Homo sapiens: one gene and its partner. The protein of the gene in region 1 interacts with the protein of each later gene in a pairwise test. Each region holds a gene or a part of one and is shown on either strand. Other genes may lie near its edges.

Region 1 (3,812 bases):
CTGCCCACAAGTCTGTGTTGTCTGCCTCATTGCCAGCTCACCAGGGTCAGCTGTTTTGATATTACAGCTGATGCTGTAAAGCCCTTGCAGACATTCTGTAGCCCGTATTAGCCACAGGATCAACAACCAGCAAGCATCACCATCATCACTAATCAACTGAATCTCATTTTGAACAAAATGAGAATGCTTATCAAGACTACCTTATAATACATTTAAGGAGGCCAGGCACATACCCATAATCCCAGCACTTTGGAAGGGTGAGGTGGGAGGATTGTTTGAGGCCAGGAGTTCGAGACCAGCGTGGGCAACATAGCAAGACCTCATCTCTACTTACATAAAAATAATTTTTTAAATGAAACTAATGCATTCAAATACAGGCAAAGTATAATTTACCATATCAAGAATCACTACCAGCTTGGAGCTGCCATATCAGGGTGAAAAGTGACAGCGTGTCACTCATCTTTGTGTCCTTCACAAAGCCCAACATTGTACCTGCTACCCAGTAGAGCCTCAAAACATGTCTGCTAAAATGGGAGGCTTTTGTTTTCATTTTGTTGCTGCTTGCAACTATACAATAAATAAATACTTATTTTGGCTAAGCAGTACTTAAATCAAAAAGGAAATTATCTTTGTGTTATTGATTTTTCTTTTCATATTAATAATGCTTAACTAACATTTCCCTCTGGATGTCCGGTCAGGCTGGATAAAGGAGCATCTTACCCTTCCCAGGACAGACTAGTCGGCCTCTGCAGTCTGACTAAAAACCAAGGAGACCAAATGTGAAGTCAGCGTGGGACACAAGAGATTCGAGCGGTGGGTCTAAGGAAAGGCTTAGATGCTTTGCCTTTGAAATCTGGTATGCTGGAAATCTCTGCTGAGGAAGTTTGAATTCACAACTTCATGAGCAAATATCTCCTCGAGTTTTTTTAGTTCGGCTCACTTCCCAGACCTCCACACTATTAGTCCACGTGAATTCAGATAGGGTGCACCAAACATCAGAAAGAGTGTGAACATGACCAGCATTATCTGCTGAGAGTAACACAGGAGTCTTCAGCACAAAATCGATGGAAACATAAACTGGATTCAACAAATACATGGGAAAACATGTCTGGGTTTTTCTCTGGGACCACAGTTTATTGGTGATCCTCCATGAAAGACACAAGGCAGATACAAGCACCATAACTCTAGCAAATGGCACACAGTGCCAGACATCAGTAAAGTCTAGAGAATTTGAGAATCAACAGAGGTCATAGAATGAGATCCTGCAGAACTTGTTTGGGCACGTGTGTGTGTGTGTGTCTGTGTGTGTGTGTGTGTCTGTGTGTGTAGAGTCAATGATGTGAGTGATAACCTTGGACAAATAGAAAGGGCCAAACACTATGGATGCCAGCTCAGGTGTCTGGACTTTCTCTGTTTCTAGGGAGTCATGAAAGCACGGAGAGCTGTGTCTCAGGAAAGGCAGCGCTAATGGAGATGGGTCAGATGGGAACTGAAAGCAGACAGTGAGGCGTGGAGGCTCCTGCCACAGCCTGTGAAACAGTGAATGAAATGCAGCCTCAGTGAAAGCAGTGGTGCTGTGGTGAAGAGGAGGAGGCAGATTCTCATGCTGTCGGACAGGATGCTTGTCCAGGTGGAAGTGGAGAGTGAAAGAGAGGGGTCAGGTAACTCTGAAGTTTCTTGCCTGAATAACTGAAAGGATGAAATACACTTTCAGAGAAAACAATTGTGGTGAGTGCTAGTTTGTGCAGTTACGAGAATTAATTCACTTCAAGTAACAAACCTGTACATGGACCCTCGAATCTAAAATAAAATTTAAAATTATTTTTAAGAAAGTAAAAACAAAAAAGAAGTAATTAATTAAAAAGTTAAAGATTAGATCTATGGATCATTGGGCAAACTGTAGACAAAACAGCCTAGATGACTGAAATTTTTGCTTTTTGGTCCATCATGGGGGCATCAGCTGGATACAAACCAAAACGTGCTCACCTATAACCAGCTAATAATTCCTCCAAAAACACCCTTGGCTGATAGGTTTGGCTTGAGTGGTCATTGAAGACTGCTAAATTGTAGGCTTCTAATATAAGGAGGAATAGAAAAAGGTAGCAATTGCTTTAAAGGTAAAGGAGGCCATGGATATTTTTTCCTGGACAGATCATATTTTGAAGGACTAAATGATAAAGCCTTAGTAAGGATGGACTTATTCCTTCTTTTGTTCATGCCTTTTGCTTTTCCATTTGTTTTTAGTTTTTAATTTCTTATGGATCAGGTATTTATGTGTTGATTGTGGATTAATTTTTAAAATAACGCTATTCCCCTCCTTTGACCCTGAAAGATCAATTCTGTCTTTCAAACAAGACCACATCCAATTGGAATACTAAGAAATTTTTTCTGGTCATGTCGGATTCTTACGTGCAGTGTTTTTGTTTTGTGTTGTTTTATTTGAGCATGATACTAAAACTACCCTGGAAATCACTCCCTGAAAATAGAACACTCTCGGGAATTACAGGGGTTTATAATTAAAATATGTTATAAGTGGGTGGCGAAGTGGCCACATTTTGTCCTCTTAAATTTGAATTTCACTTCCATCATGAGCCCATATCATTGGGGACTTCAGTCTGTAGTTGAGAAGGAACAGGGCTGTAATGTGTGAAAACACATTTCCCTAAACTGCATTCACTAAAAGTACCACTTTCTATCACTAAAAGCAAGCTAGAACGCATAATCGTTGTCATTGGTTATGTTTCGAAACTGGCCCTATGTAAAACATGAATGAAATTGCATTTGCTTGGGAAAGGTTTTTATTGTTATGTTTAAACCCATAAATGAGATTTTTAAAAAATGTATATTACAACTAATCTAATGAATTTTTATTGAATAATTTTATTCTTTCTCTCTCTTCTCTACGGAATGTGGGTTTTTGTTTTTCTTGTTCTCCAACACAAACTGCCAGCCATGGCCTACCAGGATCTTTTCCCAAACACTGCATGTAACTTCAGATACCATGTCTATTTTCCTCAGTACCCCAGACTGACATTTCAACAAGTACTTCTCATCATAGCTTTTTCAGAAGCTCTGAAAAAGCATCTGGGGGCATACTGACATTATCAGATTTTTAGGGTGGATGATGGAAATAGGACATTTGCTTTAACCCTTCCCAACAATAAAGCAAGAAACCAACGAACTGTCTTCCTACGTCAATCAAGCCGAATTGATTCTGAAATTTATCTCTTCACAGTGTATGATGGGTGAGTGTGGCAATTCACAATCACAAATGCTGTTGGAATTCATTGCAAACCTCAATGGCTTGTGTGATCTAGGCCTAATCTGGTGGTCCAATGCCATTGGTCTTCATGTTCCAAAGGGGGATTGGCAGCCCATATGGGGTTTTCAGGGCACTGGACAGCCCTGTCTCACAGAAGAGATCTTTCTCTGTGGGATCCATGCATTCCCACAATTGTTATGATCGTTTCATAGTTCATATTCAGAGCCTTCTCATATATTTCCTACACACCGCACATGAGTTTATTAGACCTTTTCCTGAGGATAGGCGGAAGCAGAGAATATTGGGCAAGAAGGATGGAGAGCAGAGTCTTCAGGCACAGGGTCCTGGAGATTAGGGACAAACTTTGGCCCCTGACAATTTTGCATAAGTTCAGCTCTGGCACAAGTCTACCATGTTGAGGTTAGCCAATCTGAGTTAACCGAGAACACACTGGGAGAGAATTACTCGCCTTTTGTTATTTCTGAAACCTGAACTGCTTTTAGAAATAAAGGCTGGAATGTTCCATAGGAACTCGGAGCATGGGGCACGG
Region 2 (4,410 bases), on another chromosome or scaffold:
AGGGAAGAAACACACACACACCCCTTCTTTCCCAAGCCCCTCGCCACCCAAACAATTCTTAAAATTCTGATGTTAATCACATTGGGAGCATTTCCTTTTACTTATTAAAATGTGCTTGCATTTCAGCCAGAGAGATTTAGATGGTAACTGGTTTCTATAAGCCTGGAAGTATTTCTGAAGGATTATGATTCAACATGAAATGCACATTCTTGACCTTATTATCTCCAACTTTCCTGGGTCTGGCCAAAGGTCCTCAGAAAAGGCTTTTTAAACAAAGATCCTGGTGTGAACTGCTGCTGAGCTTTGTTCTTTCATTTTTCATGCCTTGTAAATAATTCCTGTTTAAATTCAAAACTTCCTCAGTTGTGTCTCTACAGATTCCTTCACAGAATCCTTGCTCTCTTCCCATGTGAACTGAGGTTAAAAACATGACATACAAGCAGATGATGTTCAAGTCACCGGCATCTTGTATTCTTCCAAATTCAATGTTAAAACGTTCAAAAAACATTATGTCAATAAGGCTCCATTCCCCCCTAAACGTACATTGTTGATTCTACCAAAATGGAATACCTTTTTGGAGTTGAAAACATTGACCAGCTCTGGGTCTCCGAGATTGAGTCTGGAAGGCACCTCCCACATTGAACCTACCTGTCTGCGTTTTTTGGCTTCAAGTATTAAAGCTTCCTTTGGCAGAAATCCCTTTGAACACCAATAGGGTGCGTTGCTTTTCTTCTTCTTCTTCTTTTTTTTTTTTTTTTTTTTTAACTTTTTAGTTAATTCGTTAATAACCTCCTGACTAGGAGGGCTGGTTAGGATGTTCAGGTCAAAGGACAGTGGGATGCTGAACCCACAACCCCACATCCTCATTGGCCCCCATCGCACTCCCCGTCGCCCCCACCCCCAAAGTCTTTGCTTCCAAACCATTGAGTCCTCCCGCAAATGCCCTGGAAACTCTTCTCCGGGAAATCCCGGCTGTCCCGCCTACCGCCCGCGCATGGAAGCGCCTGATGACAATCAGGATACCACCAAGGGTTCCTCCCTGCGCGTCCCTCTGGGATCTGAGATGACCAAGACCTCGAATGGAAGGGGGTCGTCCTAAGAATTGAGGGAAGCGAGCTTTACCTTGACGAAGAGGGTGATGTCGTGCTCCTGCCCCAGGGCCCGGGGCTCGGACGCCTCTCCGTCCTCCCGGCGGCCGTTCACGCGCGCGGCCTCGCCGCTACCCTCGGCGGGGCCCTCCTCGGCCAGGTGGTTGCTGAGCTGGGCCTCAGGCTCCGCGGCGCCCCTGGAGGCCTCCCCATGTGGGCTGCTGTCGGGGGATTCCTCTTCGCCCCCCGCTGCTTCCTCCTCCCTTGGCCCCTCCGGGCTCCGCTCTCGTCTCTCTTCGTCCTCCCCCGGCTCCTGCTGTGGCCCATCCCCTACCCTGTCCTCGCCAGCGTCTGCCCTTGCGTCCCCGGGGGCCGCTTCTTCGGACCCCTTTACCCCCGGGACCTCCGCCTCCTCCGCTGCGTCCCAGGCGAGCTCACCGGGGCTGCGCCCCGCACTCTCCCCGGCTGCGACCTCAATTGCCTCGGCCTGGGGCGAGAGGCTGCCGTCCCCCGATTGCTGCGGCTCACCCGAGACCCGGCGCGCCCTTCCTGCCGGACCCTCGGCGTCCATGCTGTCCCCCGCCGGGCCTTCGGCTTCTACGCTGTCCCCCGCCGGGACCCCCGCTTCTACGCCGTCCCCCGCCGGGTCCCCCGCCTCTACGCTGTCCCCCACCCGGCCCTCCGCGTCTACGCTGTCCCCCGCCGGACCTTCCGCGTCTACGCTGTCCCCCACCCGGCCCTCCGCGTCTACGCTGTCCCCCGCCGGGCCCTCGGCTTGTATGTTGTCCCCCAGCGGGCCCTCCGCGTCTACGCTGTCCCCCGCCGGACCTTCCGCGTCTACGCTGTCCCCCACCCGGCCCTCCGCCTCTACGCTGTCGCCCGCCGGGCCCTCCGCTTCTATGTTGTCCCCCAGCGGGCCCTCCGCGTCTACGCTGTCCCCCGCCTCCCCGGACGCGCTACCTTCCGGGACCTCAGGCCTCTGCTCCGCCTCCTCCTGCCTCTCGGGGGCCGCAGAGTCCTCGGGCTCCCTCTGAGCCTCCCCGCGGGGCTCGCCCTGCGCGCCGCGTCCCGGGCTCGCCCCCTCCACCTGCTGCGCGCCGCTTGTCTCCTCCCCTCCTTGGGGCACCTCGGCACCCTCCGGGGCTCCCTCCTCGGCCTCAGTCTCGCCGTGCGCCCCCCTCGTGCCCCGCGCCTCGGCCTCCGGGCCCCTGTCTGGCCCGCCGCCTCCTGCCTCCTTCACAGCGGCGGCGCCCCTCGGCGCCTCCTCTGCGCCCTCGCTCCCCTCCGGCCCTTCTGCCTCCCCGCCCGCGGCTCCTGGCTCTCCGGGTCTCTCAGCCAGAGGCGCGGGGACCTCCGGCGGCCCCTGGGGACCCGGGGCAACCCCCTCCGGCTCCGCGGCCTCGGCCATGGCCGCAGATCCCTGTCCTTGATCGGGACTCCTTCCTTGACGCTGCTTAAGGGTCGGTGGCGCTGGGCAAGGGGCGTGCTACGGGGCCCTCTGTGCTCCTTGAAGGACGCCGGCTCCGGGATCCTGCGGCAAAGGTTTAGCCGGGGCACTGGGGCCTTGCGCAGGACCCGCAGGGCAAACTCCGCTTGGCCCCAAGCCTCTGCGCCCCTTCTGCCCAGCTGAAACTCCCTGGACTCTTCCTCCACTGCTGGAGCTTCTCCCCGATTGCGCGTCTGCTTCCCACCGGGACCCCAATCTCGCCCGCGGGCCGCGGAGGTGCAGTGCACGGCTGGAGAGGGCTGCTTCGCTCCTGCGCCTTTGGAAGTGCCCGGCCCGCTGTCCGCTGTCCTGGGGTTGACCAGAAGTCCTTGGTGCCAACTCCATCCCCTGGGGCTTGGGCGGGGTTTGTCTTCCCCTCCTCCCTCCTTTGTTTGGGTAGCCTAGGAGCTTGGCCAATGACAGCCTTTCTCGTGACCCTTGTGGATGTTGATGAAAAGATTCTGGTTCTCCTGGCCGCTTGGGTGTTGTTCTCTAGAATGGCTTCAAGTTCCAGAGTCACTTAAATCACCCCCTCCAAACACACACCCCGACACCCAAACACCTAATCCCCACCTTACCCCAGGAGTGAAGCATCAAGCTCCCCCGGTACCCAACTGAAGATGTCCACATTGTGCCTGATGTCCAAGAGCAAGGGTGTAAATCCCTGAGAGAAGAAGCTGGGGAGGCTACGCTGGCCGCCTTCCCATGTCTGCAGGGCCCCCGGAGAGGTTCCAGAGGCCCCTCATATAGACGCACAAGGAGCCAGTCGAGTTTCTCTGACCAGAGATGGGCGCTGTTGTCCATGAGGGTCCGCTTCTCCGGGCCTGTCTGGAGGATCGTGGGAGCCCTGCGCTGGAAAAAGGTTACACCTTCATCTCCCGGGTCTCTTAAGACTGTAAGAGTCTGTGTATCTTGCTGATTCTCCTAGATTTCTAAACTCACCACCAGTGCTTCTGCCTCCAAGTTAAGAGCTTGGGAATCTGGAGGTGGAGAAAAGAAAATCCAAGATGTGAAAGAGGGGAGCTATGGAATTCCCTGGGTTAGGGTTCTCCCAGGATCACAGACCCAATACCTACTTTAAAAAGGAAGTTATTATGGTGAAAAGTATGTCGTAAGTTTATTATAAGCCAGGCTACTTCTAGTGGGTTACCAAGAAACTGGGTTACCCAAGGTGGCACTATGTAAATGTGGTGGAACGGGGATCCCAGCTCAAGACTGACTTGATTCATCAGGCTTTATATGGCTTTGATATTGGCCTAAGATACATGAGCCCCTCATGCCCACAGAAGGTTGTTTTCGTTGAAAGAGCTGGGTGTGCCTTTGATGTGGCTTGGGGTCACACCTTTGGCCATGAACATAATGTGTCTCCTTCTACTTCCCATTGCTCATCACTGATGGATGACAGGACAGGAGCCCAGAGACACTCAGCTTCATGCTACCTTTCTCCAAGGCTGTGCTCTGTCTGGGTAGGTACAGGCCAGAAGCTTCATCACCACAAAGTGGCATCTAGTCAAAGCATGACACTCACACAGGTGAGCCAGAGATGCACGTGAGCCGTAAAAGCTCTAGGCACCTAGAAAAGGAATCCTGCTGCATTCACCGGGGCAAGGTAGCAGCCATCACCCTTATCTTGTAAAGAAAGATGAAGCCAGCACGTTCAGCCCGGAACAGCAAACACAGTACAGGTTTACAGTGCTTTATGCAAATCCCATGAGCCCGGATGTGTTTCAGAAAACAGAATTGTTAGAAAGATGATTGAGTGATTTTACTGTATATTACATAACACAGAACATCACTTTGTGATCAAACACATTAATATTTCTGCAGTAAGACAGG

What was found.
Region 2: the proteins of LGI1 (region 1) and CLIC6 interact in a two-hybrid assay, tested with the Homo sapiens proteins (one large-scale study listed by BioGRID and IntAct).

Annotation. Positions count from the first base shown.
Region 1 is NC_000010.11:93,760,785-93,764,596, reverse strand, and holds part of LGI1 (leucine-rich glioma-inactivated protein 1 isoform 1 precursor), read right to left. Parts: intron 1,508-3,812; exon of another isoform or gene 1,421-1,507; intron 814-1,420; exon of another isoform or gene 699-813; intron 1-698. UniProt on the Homo sapiens protein: Regulates voltage-gated potassium channels assembled from KCNA1, KCNA4 and KCNAB1. It slows down channel inactivation by precluding channel closure mediated by the KCNAB1 subunit.
Region 2 is NC_000021.9:34,667,475-34,671,884, reverse strand, and holds the start of CLIC6 (chloride intracellular channel protein 6), read right to left. Parts: upstream 2,892-4,410; 5' UTR 2,497-2,891; coding exon 1,123-2,496; intron 1-1,122. UniProt on the Homo sapiens protein: In the soluble state, catalyzes glutaredoxin-like thiol disulfide exchange reactions with reduced glutathione as electron donor. Can insert into membranes and form voltage-dependent chloride-selective channels.